Linked DNA regions of Homo sapiens: region 2 is linked to region 1. The links come from fine-mapping of genetic effects on gene expression. Tissue or cell type: whole blood. Region 1 holds a variant in brackets; the other region holds the start of a gene. All regions are shown on one strand. Distances are between the middles of the regions. Region 1 overlaps IGFBP7 (insulin like growth factor binding protein 7). Region 2 holds the start of IGFBP7 (insulin like growth factor binding protein 7).

Evidence for each region. PIP is the estimated chance that this variant, and not a neighbour inherited with it, causes the effect.
Region 2: IGFBP7 starts here. The variant in region 1 is fine-mapped to the expression of IGFBP7 in whole blood (INTERVAL, PIP above 0.99).

The regions. Positions count from the first base shown.
Region 1 is chr4:57,053,406-57,061,738 of GRCh38, forward strand. The region is part of intron 1 of IGFBP7 (insulin like growth factor binding protein 7); the gene reads right to left. Among named protein-coding and RNA genes, the nearest start is that of IGFBP7-AS1, 52 kb to the right of the region's middle. The variant G/A (reference allele first, on the strand shown) is at 3,946.
Region 2 is chr4:57,106,864-57,115,196 of GRCh38, forward strand. It overlaps IGFBP7 (insulin like growth factor binding protein 7), which reads right to left and starts at 3,522. Exons shown (of 5, transcript NM_001553.3): 1 at 3,014-3,522. The coding sequence starts at 3,488. IGFBP7-AS1 (IGFBP7 antisense RNA 1) reads left to right here and starts at 2,899. Exons shown (of 5, transcript NR_034081.1): 1 at 2,899-3,107. RefSeq lists a silencer at 3,591-3,660.

The DNA.
Region 1 (8,333 bases):
GGTGTGGTTCTTGCCCATGGTGGTTCTGGTACATGTGGTCTGGTGTCATTCTTGAAGGGACCCTGCTACTGCCATGAAGCAAATCCATGAAGGACTTGAAACCATGTTCAGGTGTGCAAGATGGTGAGCTCGCTCTGGTAACCATGTGATAGATGAGGTAACATGGGGCTGTGCCAACAACATTGCCCAGGGATGAGCTAACGTATTCAGCAGAGCTCCCCTAGGAAGCTGGAATACCTACACTATCATCCTAATACCAGACTGGCTGAGGTCCACACAAGTTGAATCAGCAGGCTAGGTTTTGAATTGGTTTGAGGACCTGGAAGAACTGACTTTATAGAGAGTGCTTTCCCGAGACGAAACTCCCTAGTGATGTTAACATAGCCTTGGAAACACATTTTTTCCACATCTCATGGGCCTGTCCTGTCTGGACTATGACTCACCTTAAATACAAGATATTAAATGTTTTTGCTAGCGCTTTCTTATTCTGCAAGCACTGAATTGGGTGGGAAGTTCCCATAGGAAACTTATTGCTAACCACGTGGATGGTCACACCTGATTCTGGGATTCCTAGAAGCCTAGATAGTGAGTTTCCCTAGGAAATTTCTCCTTCTTTTCTTGGGATGAGATCTTGTTACATTGCCCAGGTTGGTCTTGGACTCCCAGGAGTCCAAGCTCAAGCCATCCTCCTGCCTCAGCCTCCTGAGTGGCTGAGACTACAGGTGAGCAACCACCAAGCCTGGCTAGGACACTTCATCTTGGAGTCCCTGCCCACTCTCAGGCCCCTACATACTAACCCAGTGCCTGGTATCCTCAGACATCAGGAAGGGTTTCTTGAACTACCTGTAAGGGAGGCTCACCCATCTTTAAAGCTTAGTCTCTATCCGTAGGCCCTGCGCTGACTAACAAGAATTCTAAGCAATCTGCTTAGAAATAGATGTGCTTGGCTGGGCACGGGGTGGCTCATGCCCGTAATCCCAGCACTTTGGGAGGCCAAGGTGGGCAGATCACGAGGTCAGGAGATCGAGACCATCCTGGCTAACATGGTGAAAACCCGTCTCTACTAAAAATACAAAAAATTAGTCAGGCTAATTTTGGTAGCACGTGCCTGTAGTCCCAGCTACTTGGAAGGCTGAGGCAGAAGAATTGTTTGAACCTGGGAGGCGGAGGTTGCAGTGCACCAAGATCACACCACGGCACTCCAGCCTGGCGACAGAGCGAGGCTCTCTCTCACAAAAAAAAAAAAAAAAAAAAAAAAAAGAAGAAGAAATAGATGTGCCCCTGGGGAAGAGGATGTAAGAGATTCCCAAGTGATCTTCTACTTCAGGAGAGCTGGACTTGCTAAACCTCCTCCTGAAAACATTTTGCGACGCTGAAGGCCAAGGCCTGAACTCCCTGGGAGGATGCTACAATGGGGCCAGTTCTGCTGTTCCCTGTACACTCGGACAACCAAGGAGGACCAGGAGACTTAACACCTTGGGTCTTCAGTAGAAGACTAAAGTTCTTCAGCTCCCTGAGAACCAGACACGTGTTTAGCACCACTCTGCCCAAGGAAAAGATTCACACTTTAGAAATCCCAGCAAATCCTTCAGGCGAGGCTGACGGCACTGGAAAGTGCCTGTGGGGTCCGACAGTGCAGTATAGGGTGACCCTCTTAGACCAGGAGCTACCAAGCAGAGGTTTATTCAGTCTCCAGAAGGCTATGCAGGTTGGAAAAGATTTCATAGCGGGGCATCTGCAGAAATAGGCAGCAGACACGCAGAGCCTCAGCCACCGGGTACTGGCCTCTAGGAAGGATTCTGTCCTGCAGGATCTTATCCAGTGGTTGCCAATCCTGGCTGCACACTGGACTCATCTGGGTGTGTCGAAAAAAATGCCCATTCCTGGGCTGCACTCCTAGTTTCTCACTGGTCTGGGCGTGGAGTCTGGTACAGGTATCTTAAAAAAAACTCCCTAGGTAGAAGTACTCAATTAAAACATTGTTTTTGAGTAGGAGATACTCAGATGATTAGGAAGACAGGAAGGTGGAAAGTTAGAAAGGAGGAGAGGGGGACAGATTAGAAGAAATTATGTTCGTAGGTCTTTTTGGGGAGTGAGAGGCCAAGTACTACTTGGGAGGTGCCAGTATTCACGGAGAATTGAGAAAATCCAGTGGGCTGGTTCTGGGTGAAGGGTACAGACACCTGATAACACCAGCACCGCCACCACTTCAATCACGCGGGGGTGGACAGGGTCATCGCGGTTCTCCTGGACTGCTTTCCATTTTCATAAAATAGGGCAGTCATCTCCCACCTGCACCCTGTCCCTCTTCTGCCCTCCTCATTCCTGCCCTTGACTGTTCTGTATGGAGATGGGGCTCTGTGTCTGGAGTGCATGGGTCTTATCTAAAATCCCTCGAACTTGGGAGCCGCCCTTTGCTCATTTCTGGTCCGATTGCCTCTCTGTTAAGACATTCGGTTTGGCTTTAAGCGGGCAAGGAGGAGGTTGAATAAAGGGATCTCTGTGTGCGAATAGCCCCCTTCAGACTTCCATGGAGCAGAGCGCAGGGCGTGATGGCTGCTTGGCGGGCGTCTGGCGTTTGTACTTGCGTATGTTTTTACCCTCCAGGCCCCGGACTCCCATTGTCACAGCCCAGCCACCGTGACTCCCTGGCAGACAACCCCAGACGTTAGCCAGCCGCGCATAACTGAGCTCCTCCTGCTCTTTCTCAGTGTTTTCCTCTTCTCCAGCTTGGCCCCTCTGGTCATTTTCTGAGCCGTTTTGTGATGTCTAGAGACTGAAAAGCTGTCTGTTATCTATCCCATCCTTTGCTCATGCATTCTTTGCTGAGTGTTCTCAGATTTTCTCTCAGCTTCCTAGCAGGATTTCGTGTTTCTTCTCCCATTTTTGGTATTTTCTCTAGTGTCGTCCCTAAGGCTGAACCTGGAATAGAATGCTCCTCTTACGCTAGTGTAGGGCTAGTTCTTCTCGTGTGTGTGTCTTGGGTACTTAGGATAAGTATTACTGTGTGTTTGAGTTCAGCTACAAGACAATTTTTCTGAGTGCTAAGAGGAATTGAGAAGGTGCTAGATGTGGGTGCAGTAAACAGTCTGGGCCAGGAACAGCCAGACTGTTCAAGTGAGGCTCAAAAGTGCCAAATAGCACTGCTCTGAAATCAGGGAAATGGGGATGTCTCTCTGATCACAGGAGAGGAGGACCTGCCTGGTGAGAACTGGAAGGCTTTGCATAAGGAATTTACCATTTAGCAAGGCAAGTCACCCTTGCTTTTATCAGGCTGGGGGACAGAGGAGTCCATCTGGCTGGGTGTGAGCTGTGAGAAATGGGAACAAGGTGAAGCAAAGCTATGCCAATGCACGTGGGACATGTTACCTCACAGAAGGAGATTGCAGTGGCATGGAAATACTCTTTTCTGCTCTTATTGGCATTTTTCACATCAGAAATCTCTGCATTGGCACTTTGGCTAATTTTAGGCAGTGATTATTTTTCTTTAATTAATGGTGCTTTCTTTTTTTGAGTTTTGTTTTTTATTTCACTTGAATTATTAGTTCCCTAACAGTGCAGGGAGACACAGAAAGGAGTTTTTCATGATTTCTATAGTAGATTTTTTTTTCTTTTTTTGAGACAGGCTCTCACTCTGTTATCCAGGATGGAGTATAGTAGCACGATCATGGCTCACTGCAGCTTCGTCCTTTAGGGCTCAAGAGATCCTCCCAACTCAGCCTTCCAAGTAGCTGGGACTACAGGCACATACCACCATCCCTGGCTAAGTTTTTAAAATTTGTTTTGTAGAGACAGGGTCTCCCTGTGTTGCCCAGGCTGGTCTCGAACTCCTGGGCTCAAGTGATCCCCCTGCCTTGGCCTCCCAAAGCGTTGGGATTACATGTGTGAGCCAGTGCACCCATCCGTAGATTGGGTTTTAAAGGTGAGGACATTATGCCTTTACAA[G/A]GACTGGGAGAAACTACATGCAAAGTATCCTAACGGTCACGTGAACCTGGGGCTTATTGTAGAACTTCCAAAGGCATTTCTTCTAGAGCAACCATCAGTTCTGGCCTTGGAGATTTTATTCTTTTGTTTATGTAAATGAAAATAATTTCCTCATAAAACAGGGGATTTCAGATTTGGCGCCTCTTCAGAGCAACCATACATAAAAGTAGGAAACTCATTCTTTAGAGGCACGAGGAAGAAAATGTTCTCAGTACTCCCGAAATTGGCCTTGGAGCTGCTGTTTATGCCTCCCTCATCCTTGCTTTTTGGGTATGTTCTCAGGGAGTCTCTTTAACAACATGTGTGACCCTTTTAGGAAGCTGGGCACTTCAAAGATAATGAATGGATCTCTGAACTTGGCTAAGGCAGCAGACTTCAAGCACTAAGACAATGCTTTTTCACAAACACCAGCTGCTTGTCAACAAAGGGGAAGAGGTAGAAAGTAATCCAGGTTTACCTAGTCCTTGGGAAAGGGTTATGGTCTGAGCCAGTACATCAGCTGAACTGACACTTGAAGAGAAGAAAGCTCAAAGTAAACTCAAATAGAGAAAATAAGAACAAGACTCTTGGGATACATATGACTTTGACCTGTCTCCAAATTTCCACCCCATATCCATGGGAGCTTGGCCTCTGTGGAGAACAGGGAGTCATGGTCTGTGGAACAGAGAGAGAGAAGATTAATCCCATTCACAAAAAAGTCGTGGGTAATTTTTTTTAATCAGCAAGGAGCATTTTAACTTACAAAAAAATAAGGAATAATAATTCCATAAATATTTCATAAGGTTAGCACTAGCTAGCTTTCCTCAATGGCTTGTAATGTGCTCAGAAGATGATTAAAGAACAGATCTTTCTGGAACATACTGATCATCATATGTTAAATCAGGCTGGACAGAAGTTCAATTCCTAATAATTAGGGAACATAAAAAAATGTCAGAGGCATCACGTTACTTGACTTCAGACTATACTATTAGGGCTACAGTAACCAAAACAGCATGGTACTGGTACAAAAACAAACATCTAGATCAATGGAATAGAGAGCCCAGAAATAAGCCTGCACGCCTACAACCATCTGATCTTCAACAAAGCTAACAAAAACAAGCAATGGGGAAAAGACTCCCTATTCAATAAATGGTGCTGGGATAACTGGCTAGCAATATGCAGAAGATTGAGGCTGAACCCCTTCCTTACACCATATGAAAAAATTAACTCAAGATGGATTAAAGATGTAAATGTAAAACCCCAAACTATAAAAGCCCTGGAAGACAACCTAGGCAATACCATTCTGGACATAGGAACAGGTAAATATTTCATGACAAAGACACCAAAAGCAATTGCAACAGAAGCAAAAATTGACAAATGGGACCTAATTAAACTTAAGAGCTTCTGCACAGCAAAAGAAACTATCAACAGGGTATACAGACAACCTACAGAATAGGAGAAAATATTTGCAAACTATGCATCTGACAAAGGTCTAATATCCAGCATCTGTAAGGAACTTAAACAAATTTACAAGAAAAAACCAACCCCATTAAAAAGTGGGCAAAGGACATGAATGGACACTTTTCTAAAGAAGACACACATGTGGCCAATAAGCATATGAAAAAAAGCTCAACATCACTGATCATTAGAGAAATGCAGATCAAAACCACAATGAGATACCATCTTACACCAGTCAGAATTGCTATTATTAAATAGTCAAAAAACAACAGATGCTGGCAAGGTTGCGGAGAAAAGGGAACACTTATACTCTGTTGGTAGGGGTGTAAATTAGCTCAACCATTGTGGAAAGCAGTATGGCGACTCCTCAAAGAGCTAAAAACAGAACTACCATTTGATGCAGCAATTCTATTGCTGGATATATACCCAGAGGGACATAAATCATTCTACCATAAAGACACATGAACAGGAATGTTCATTGCAGCACTATTCACCATAGCAAAGACATGGGATCAACGTAAATGCCCATCAATGACAGATCGAATAAAGAAAATGTGGTACATATACACCATGGAATACTATGCAGCCATAAAAAAGAATGAGATCATGTCTTTTGCAGGAACACGGAGGGAGTTGGAGGCCATTATCCTCAGCAAACTAACACAGGAACAGAAAACCAAATACCACATGTTCTCACTTACAAGCGGGAACTAAATGATGAGAACTCATGAACGCAAAGAGGGGAACAACAGACACTGGGTCTACTTGAGGGTGGAGGGTGGGAGAAGGGAGAGGAGCAGAAAGGGCAACTATTGGGTACTAGGCCTAACACCTGGGTGATAAAATATGCTGTACAACAAACCTCCATGACACGAGTTTACCTATGTAACAAACCTGCACATGTACCCCCAAACCTAAAATAAACTTTTTTTAAAAAAGAATATTTAAAACAAAAAAAAGAAAAATGTCATCTAATCATCATCAACTTTAATATCTATCCCTATATCTAGAGCACTAACTTGTACTACTGCTTCGTTGAATTAATTCCTTAAGGGGAAATTCCTATGGAAAATGGTTTAAAAGGTGAGAAAGGACTACAATAATAACTAACTAAATCACATTTCAGCATTGTATAGCATTAAGCAGGTGAAAACATGGAATGGATTAATTTGTCCCAGTCCATCATGAACTAAGTGATGTGCTGGGTCACATGAGGAATAGAAAGATGTTAGGGTTGGACTCCTGTCCCATAGGGATTTACAATCAGGAAGTGAAGACAACTATACATGCAATTATAAAACAGGCGAAGTGCAACTGGTCCTACGATAGAAATACAAATATAAAAAATAATCTCCTGGGCTGTAATCCCAGAGTTCCCAGACAAATGAGGTCTGGCTGCTTGTTCTCGAGTCCAATAACAAGATGCAGACAGACTGGGAAAGGAGGGAGTTTATTTTTGCAACCAGTTACAGGAAGAAGGTCAGAGTAACTCACCAGATCAACTCAAAGTTACAAGTTTTCCTTTAGCTTATATACACAATTCAAGCTCTATGTCTACTTGTGGGAGTGTTTCTTAATCTAATTTTAACTATGGGTCTGTGGGTAGGAAAGTTTCTTAAGTGGGTCTTGGTGCACGCTTTGATCCCTCAATCAGGTTTGAGGTTGAGGAAGTCCAGGTAAGGTTTTAATAGGTTTGTTTTTGCATTCGAGCTTTCTTACTCAGGCACCAGTTACCCCAGTTCGTTATCCATTGTTTTCTACTTCTGCTTTAATGTTTAACTTATACATTCCTCATTACAGCAAAGGGTTTATGGAGATCCAGCCTGCTACACCAGCACTTTGGGAGGCTGAGGTGGGAGGATCACTTGAGCCCAGGAGTTTGACACCAGCCTGGGAGCCTGGGCAATATAGTGAGACCTCATCTCTAAAAAATAAAATATAAATTAGCCAGGCGTGGTGGTGTGCACCTGTAGTCCCAGCTACTCAAGAGGCTGAGGCAGGAGGATTGCTTGACCCTGGGAGGTCAAGGCTACAGTGAGCTATGATTGCGCCACTGCTCTCCAGCCTGAGTGACGGGGCAAAAAAGTTTTTTTTCCTGTAGTCCCAGCTACTCGAGAGGCTGAGGCAGGAGGATTGCTTAAACCCAGGAGTTTGAGGCTGTAGTGCCTGTGATTGTGCCTGTGAATAGCCACTGGATTGCAGCCTGGGGCAACAGCGAGATTTCGTCTCTGAAAAACAAAAAAAATTCTTACTGAGTAGGTCAGAACTAAATTCATGAAAGAGGAAATGGGCTTTCAGGCAAGGGGATCAGTATGTTCAAGATGTGGGAAAACTGTGTGTCGTTTGCAGGAAAAATAAAAATACAATAGTCCACCCTTATCCCTTCAGGGGATACTTTCTAAAACCCCCAGTGGATGCCTGAAACTGTGGATAGTACCGAACTTTATACAGTATATATTAATAGTATATATTAATACTATGTTTTTTCCAATATTTTCCTATATATACATACCTCTGATAAAATCTGTTTTGTAAATTAGGCACGGTAAGAGATTAACAACAGCAACTAATAGTAAAATAGAACAACTATAACAATAAACCAAATTTATTATTCTTGCGCTTTGGGGCCATTATTAAGTAAAATAAGGGTTTCTTGGAACACAAGCACTGTGATACCATGACAGTCAATCTGACAGCTGAGACAGCTACTGACTGACTAATGAGTGGGTGGTGTTGACAGCGTGGATACCCACACAAAGGAAAAAATTCACATCCCAGCCTGGACAGAGCTGGATGGGGTGAGATTTCATCACGCTACTCAGGACTGTGTGGAATGTAAAACCAGAAAGTGTTTGTTTTTGGAATTTCCCATGTAATATTTTCGGACCAAAACTGACTGCATATAACTGAAA
Region 2 (8,333 bases), 53 kb after region 1:
TCTTCAAATTCCCCCTTCTGGTTATCCATGACTTCAGGGACCTCAATACAATCTAATGGCAGTAAATTCATAATGACAGTTCCAAGATTTGAAATTATTTGCTGATTATCTTTCAGACATATTTTCAAGCAGATCGCTTTGCCTCCTACCAGAGAGGTATGGAAAACAAGCAGACCAAGATCTCTTCCCAGTTGGGTAAGTGGTGATCTTAGAAAGGAGGAAGACTGGGGCAAGCTCCAGGGCTCCAGGGCAAGTGCTCTGGGAGGTGAGTTTGTAACTTGTACAGATACTTTCTTAATCAGCAACATCAAATCTGTTTTGTACATCCCTGGTATATAGCACCTAGTACAGTGCTGACTCAAGTTAGCTGCTCAATAAATGCATGTTAAATGGAACCAAAGACCAGAGGGCAGATTGAATCACACCATTGTGGCTGAATCCCACAATGCTGCCCCTACCTGGCCCCTACTCAAGTTATACTCAAGCATAACTTAAGTTTCTTCTGAGAATAGAAGGGAACCTAGAGGTCTAGAGGAACCTAGACAATGCATTTCCTATTCTGTGCAAAGCCCCAGTATGAAATGGCACAGAAGTAAATGGCACTCTGTCCAGTTTGCTTCTATGATTGTCAAAACCCATCCAGGTGTCAGAAGAAATATTTAGGGGATGTGATAGGGATCAGTCTATTGTCTCTGCTGTGGAAAGTTTCTGCTGTGGGAAAGGCTTCCCATTCTCTTCTGCTCTCTTTGGCATTCTCCTATAAATGGTCTCTGCCATTTAGAACTCATCTCTCTCAATTTAGGATGAGAAGAAATGGCTAATTTAAGTCAAGGTTTCCAGTTTTAGATGCTGTTTTCTCTAACATTTCCCCAAATATAAAGAAAAGCCGGGCCGGAACCCTCAAAGGGTTTGCAGTCTGGAGAGGTACTGAGCTGGGTGTACATGGTAATGAGGTTATGAAACTGGTTCTATATGACTGTCAGTCTCAATATTTTATAATCAGACTGTGTGAGTGTTTGGTGATGTAAGTAGCAGGTGAGAAAAAGGAATATTAAGTATAAACTAGAAATTGACAACACTTGAACAATCACCAAGCTAACCTTCTGCTCTGATAAGGCAAGTATCTGCCATTTTGAAAAAACTATAAAGTTCCCCATTGTAATGTTTATAAGAAAATCTCAATATTTGGAATAAATTCTTAAATAACGCACATTTATCTTTTCATGATGTGACCGACAAATGAGATCCAAAGTAACAAATAACTGTTTCTATTGTAAACATATGCAGATTATTTTGGGTTGCAATTTTCTAAGTTTAAGGTGATGATACTATAAATAGTTACTAGTGAGTTACACAATTTAAGGCTTTCAATAGTGAACTCTGAAATTGATGACATACAACCTATTAGTTTGTGGACTTCTGGGAAAAGCTCTAAAGAAAGAATTTGGAAATTCTGGAGAAAGTCTGAACTGTGTTAAAGAAGCAACAGCTTCTGTAACCTCAGAACTGCCTCCTCTCCCTTTTCTACCTTGGCTAAGATCAGGAGCTGCCAACATTGAATGTCTGACTTTCCCTTGAAAATACTGCCAATGGAAAATGTTATTTCAGGCATTAGAGTTAAAATTTCTATGTGTGTGTGTATGTGCGTGTATTTGCAAGTCCAGACTTTATTTTCTTCTTTCTTTCTTTTTTTTTTGAGATGGGGTCTCTGTCTGTCACCCAGGCTGGAGTGCTGTCATGTGATCTCGGCTCACTGCAACCTCCGCCTCCCAGATTCAAGCGATTCTCCTGCCTCAGCCTCCTGAGTAGCTGTGATTACAGGCATGCACCACCATGCCCAGCTAATGTATATATATATATTTTTTATTAGAGATGGGGTTTCACCGTGTTGGTCAGGCTGATCTCGAACTCCTGACCTCGTGATCTGCCCATCTTGGCCTCCCAAAGTGCTGGGATTACAGACGTGAGCCAACCCACCCGGCCTATTTCCTTATTTCATTTACAGCAAGCTTGGACTTGTTTGGAATAAAATAAACAATCAAACATAATCTCAAAGACATTTCTGCTGAACAGTGTATCCTGGGGACAAATTATGCAAAACAATACAAATCAAAGAAATAGGAAGGAAAAACAAAATGGTCAGAAGGTTGACAACAAAGTGCATCACAAAAACAGTCTTCAAAGAGTTTGTATTTTATTTTTGCCCACAAATAATTAGCTAGTTAGATTACTGTTTGAGAACCTATAATTTTTAGAAAGTGGACTATTTTCTTCAATACTAAGAAATCAGGGCTGTGCACGGTGGTTTATGCCTGTAATCCCAGCAGGCCGGGATTACTTGAGCTCAGGAGTTCGAGACCAGCCTAGGCAACATAGTGAAACTCCGTCGCTATAAAACAAAACAAAACAAAACAAAAAACCAAAAATTGGCCAGGCGTGGTGGCACAGGCTTATAGTCCCAGCTACTTGGGAGGCTGAGGCAGGAGGATCGCTTGAGGCAGAGGTTGCAGTGGGCCAAGATCGTGCCACTGCCCTCCACCCTGGGCGACAGAGCAAGATCCTATCTTTTAAAAAAAAAAGTCTGTCTGGAAGTCCTTACTTTATATTTAATTGTCAAACTCCTTTCCCCCATCTCTTGACTTCACCTCTCTCTACATCCCCAAGCCAAGAATGATGAGAAATGGACAGATGTTAGCACGAGTTGGGTGCGCTTTGGGCATGGGGAAGTCTGAGGTCTCGGAAAATCTTTTCTACATATACACCCGGCCCTCACTTTCTGGACGCACGCAGCAAACTCTCAAAATAAAACCACCAAAAAGGAGAAGGGGGGGCGTCGCCCACCGCTCCTGGCATTCCGCGGCTGCCAACTCTTTCCCTCCCATCTGGCTCCTGGGATGCCCGCGGGGGAATCGCAGTGAGCAGCGCGGGGCGAGGCCGCCGCGGACGCCCCGTCGGATGTGCCCTTCGCTGGGCCGAGCGGCGCAGGGTTGGAGAGGGAAGCGCTCGTGCCCACCTTGCTCGCAGGTGCCCTTGCTGACCTGGGTGATGGCCTTCTCCCCGCGGCTCTCGGCCCTCTGGCTGGCGGCGCGCAGCTGGCAGCCGCTCGGGTAGGTGGTGCCGTCGCTGCCGCACACCGGGTAGCGGCTCTTGCACACGCACACGCCGCTTACACCCGGACCGCCGGCTGCTGCCCCGGCTTTACCCTTCCGCCTCTTGCGGCTCTTCACGCACTCCATGCCCGGCGCGCAGTACCCCCTGCCGGCGCCGCCACCCCCGCACGGCTCGCCCTCGCCGCGGGCGCACATAGGGCAGCAGCCGCACGCGTCGCGGGTCTCGCCCAGCAGGCAGCCCAGCGGGGGCAGGGGCGGGCAGGAGGCCGGCTCGCAGGGGCCGCAGGTGTCCGAAGAGGAGGAAGAGGAGAGGGGCAGGAGCAGGAGCAGCAGCCCAGCGGCGCCGAGGAGCAGGGCGCGCAGCGACGGCCGCTCCATGGCGGGGTGCGGTGGCAGCGGCAAGGGCGCGAGTGAGCCGTGTCGGGCCGGCCGGCGCCTTAAACCCGCCGCCCCGCCCGGCCTGTCCGCGGGAACCACACCCCGGGGCGGTGAGAGCACGGGGGCCCCGCCCGTGCCGCCCTCCCGGCCCCGCGGGGCCTGCGCGCGCGCTCCTGCTGGCGTCGGGGGGTGAGCGGGCACCCGGCGTGACCGGCCCATGGGCGCTCGGTCTCACGCCCGCTTCGCAGAGCTCACCCCGCCAGCTCCTGCTCGGTCCCCAGTCCCCTGCCCCGAGCCCTCAGGGATCGCACCGCAGTGCGAGCGGCTCTTCCACCCTCTGGTTTCTCCCCGTTTCCGGTCAATATATTTAAACTTCTTAACAACCACGGCTTCGAGACGATCCAGGGTTTCATCTATTAAATCCTCCGTGGGCCTGAGACACCTGAGTGCTCATTACTCTGTGGTTTGGGAAGCTCTCTTAAGAACAAGCTGTTAAAAACCCCCACTTGTGGACTGTGTCCCCGCTGGCCACAGGCCTGCTGTGGTCTTGGGTGTCAAGCACTAAAAGGACAAACCGTTGCCAACCACTTCCCTTTCTGGAACCTCTTAACTGCCTGCACCTCCCTCCCCGCTTTGTCTCCCAGTGGCATTCAACAAGACTCTGTGCTTTTTTTGTGCTGAGCCGTTTTCAGTGAGTACTGGAATCCGTGTGAGAGCTGTGCCCTTGTTTTGAGTTCTTGCTGAACTGCTCGCCCTCCAGCAAGCCTCTCGGGAGAACAGAGCGCAGCTGAGAGGAGCAGGGGTCCCAGCTCCTTCCTCGTTGGAGCTGCCACGGAGGCACCTAAAGCGCCCCCAGTCTTCACCAGCATTCCAGGAGGTTTTTGATATAAACGGTGGACTCTTCCTCAGTCTTTCTGCGAAGTGCTCTGCAAACTCAACTTGAAAGCCTCTCTTCCCAGGAACACTGGCCTCTCCAATGCAGACATGGAAGTTGCTTTCACTTTTTAACTGAATGTGTAACATTGCAGCGTGCATTATTCTGCATGTCACATTGTGGTTCTTTTGTGTTCTTTTTTCTTAGCATAAATCCAGGGATTTACAGGGTTGCTGACTGAAAGCCAGCAGTTCAGTTCATAATCCCATTAGCAGTGTAAAGAACTCATTCTCAACAGACTCTTACAAGGATAATTATTGCAAATTTTTTGAAAATTAAATGACCACAAAATCGGGGGGTGGAGAGTGGGGAAACATCCTCCAATCCAGAAAAACCTAGCACTGCTTTTTGGCCTCTCCTTAGTGTATTATAGACAAGTGGAGCATTTTTTTTCCCCTCAAAGGTCATATGTTGACCTGACAGTTGTTTAAAAAACAATGAAAAATCTTTACAGCAGAGTTTCCCTAAATATTTTTGTCTTTGTTCCATCCTAAGAGATGCAGTTTACATGACCCATTTGTTTTCTTGAAAAGGAAACAAATGCAGAGTGCACTCTATTTCCTATTGTATTTAATTTCTTTCTTTCTTTCTTTTCTTTTCTTTCTTTTTCTTTTTTTTATTTTTTTGAGATGAAGTCTCCCTGTGTCGCCTAGTCTGGAGTGCAGTGGTGAGATTTTGGCTCACTGCAACCTCTGCCTCCCAGCTTCAAACAATCCTTCTGCCTCAGCCTCCCGAGTAGCTGGTATTACAGGCATGCACCAACATGCCCGGCTAATTTTTGTATTTTTACTAGAGACAGGGTTTCACCATGTTGCCCAGGCTGGTCTCAAACTCCTGACCTCAAGTGATCCACCTGCCTCGGCCTCCGAAAGTGTTGGGATTACAGGTGTGAGCCACTATGCCCGGCCCTGATTTCCTTTTTATTAATTCACTGGTCAAGAGCCACTAAATTGGTTCCATGATCTAGTATGACGATCTGTCATAGTTTTAGATTCTCCAGAAGCTTTCTCTGAGACAAGGATTCCAGTGCAAGTAGGTCACCTGAGAAGCCACATCAGGACACAGAGATTGAGGGTTGGGGCAGGCAGGTGAGCAAGCAGGAAGGGAAGACAGCCAATAAAGGTGCTTATCTCCGCAGCCAGAAGAAGCCCTCAGGCTCTACAAACTGTGTGTGTGTGTGTGTGTGTGTGTGTGTGTGTGTGTGTGTTTGCGTGTGTAGGGCATGTGGGTGGGCAGTGGCAGCAGCTGTACACTAAGAGCTGTCACCCACAGTGTGTGGAGGTCCTGCATCAGAGCCAACAGTGAGAATGCAAGCATGTGCTACAGCGGAGTCCCTTTGAGGAACCTCCTCACTGCCCAGCAAGCAAAGAAAACAAGCAAGTTTCTGGTCACTGAAAGGGGAACCCGAGCTCTGTGATAGTGCCAGTCGAGCTGGAGGACCTGAAAACAAGAAGAGATGTTAGAAAAAAGGCAGGTGAATGGAGCCTTTAAAGAGCAAGTTGACAACTCCACCCTTCCAATAACAGATATATTGTCACCTGTTCAGCTTCAGTTTTAGTGAGGTGGAGAGGCTGGATGTGGAGATGGAGATATTTTTACTTCTTCCTGTTTAATTGGTGCCTTTTGTTTCTTTTTCTTGCTTAATTGCCCTGGTTAGAACCTCCAGTATAATGTTGAATAGAAGAGGTGAGTGGACACCCTTGTCCCAGTCCTCACCTTAGAGGGAAAGTTGTTAGTTTTTCACCACTAAGTATGAAGTTAGCTGTGGGCATTTCATAGACAGTCTTACCAGGTTGAGGAAATTCCTTTCTATTCTGTTGATTGTTTTTCATCATGAAGTGGTGTTGAATTTTCTTTTCTTTTCTTTTCTTTCTTTTTTTTTGAGACGGTGTCTCGCTCTGTTGCCCAGGCTGGAGTGCAGTGGCGCAATCTTGGCTCACTGCAACCTCCACCTCCCGGGTTCAAGCCATTCTCCTGCCTCAGCCTCCTGAGTAGCTGGGATTACAGGCACATACTACCCCGCTCAGCTAATTTTTGTATTTTTAGGAAAGACTGGGTTTCATCATGTTGGTCAGGCTGGTCTCGAACTCTTGACCTCGTGATCCGCCTGCCTCAGCCTTCCCAGAGTGCTGGAATTACAGGTGTGAGCCATCACGCCTGACAGAGAGTACATTTTAAATGTTCTTGCCTCAAAAATGATAAGTATGTGAGGTAAAGAATATGTTACTTAGCTTAATCTAGTCATTCCACAATACATACATATATAAAAACATCATGTACACTGTAAATATACACAATTTTTTGTGAATTAAAATTTTTTTAATGTTTAAAAAGAATCATTCCTGCTTTCTGAGAGCACCCCATCCATAGCAACCTCCTGCTTCCTTAGACCTTCCCCTAAATTACTCAACCAAAGTCCAAATCCTATAATAGGCTCTTTCTAACACCCCCTTACTGAGACCCCCATAGTTCCATATGGTGTCTATCCTCCCTTGCTACAATGAGTGATAAACTCAACTTATTCAACTACAGGTGCATTCCTGTGATCTTTGGCTGAAGGGTAATGATGCAAGAGATATATGTCCCCCTCCCTTCTACACTACTTCAGCTCAATATTCCCCCAGCCCACAGGACACTCCCAAACCCTTTGCCGATGGGTCCTTGTACCTGGCGAGCACCCTTCTTGGTGGAGTATCTCTAAGACTACTCAGTCTGGCAAGTTTCTTGATATCTGTGGGAAACCCGTGGTGCTGTGCAGCCTGCCCCTGTGAAGTCCCTCTATGTCCAGCCAGTACAGGGCCAGAAGCCAGCCTGCCTATTCAGGAGACATCTAATTGGACAACGGAATGCTTGTCTCTTTTTCTTGCAAACATCACAGACCTCTTGGCTCCGTTATCCTTGTCTTCTTAGGAGTTGGGGGTGGGGCGGTGATTAAGGGGAGGAGAAACCTGCTTTCTCCAGTAAGCTCTCACCCCAAACCTGTTTATATGTGCCTGTGTGTGTGGGGGGGTGGGGGGATGGTGTGTGGGGCTTGTGGTGCTTGTGGCAGGGACATGTAGCATTGAGGAGCATTCTGGTTCAATTTTTTTTTTTTTTGAGACAAGGTCTTGCTCTGTCACCTAGGCTAGAGTGCAGTGGTACAATCATAGCTCACTGCAGCCTCAAATTCCTGGGCCCAAGCGATCCCCCTATTCAGCCTCCTAAATAACTGAGATTACAGGTGCATACCACCATACCTGACTATTAATAATTTTTCTTTGCTTTTGTAGAGACAGAGTCTCATTATATTGCTCAGGCTGGTCTCCAACTCCTGATGTCAAGTAATCCTCCTGCCTTGGCCCCCCAAAGTGCTGGGATTATAGGCATGAGCCACCACACCTGGCCCTGGTCCAATTTTTGGTGGCTCTGCTTTAGAATGTGGGGACACGCAGAACCTATAGTTTTGGGTTGTAGATCCTAGTGCCATTTTTTAGGCAAAGGAAGAGTTGTTCTATTCAACAGTCTGTTACAATAGTTATCTATCATCTTTATTATTTCATTTTTTTCTCCTTTCTCTCCTTCATCGTTATCACCATTAGTAAGTCAGAGATTGTCAGGTGATGGGGTAGGGTGTATCTGATCACCCAAACTCGGATAAACAGTGCATGAAAAGGGGCTAAGCCAGTGGAAACCACTTTGGCATGTTCCAGCTGCCACAAGAAGTTCAGCTTAGCTGAAGCAAGGTGAGTATGTGGAGAAGTGGGAAGAAATGAGTCTGGAGAGAGGGCAGATGACAGATAATGAAGGGCCTTGCACACTGCACCCAGAGCTTTGGACTGCATCTTATAGATGACTGTGAACTGTTGAGGGGTGCAGGGGAGAGGCAAGGTCAGGTTGTGGTGTTGGAAGGTCATTACAGAAGTAAGAGGGAA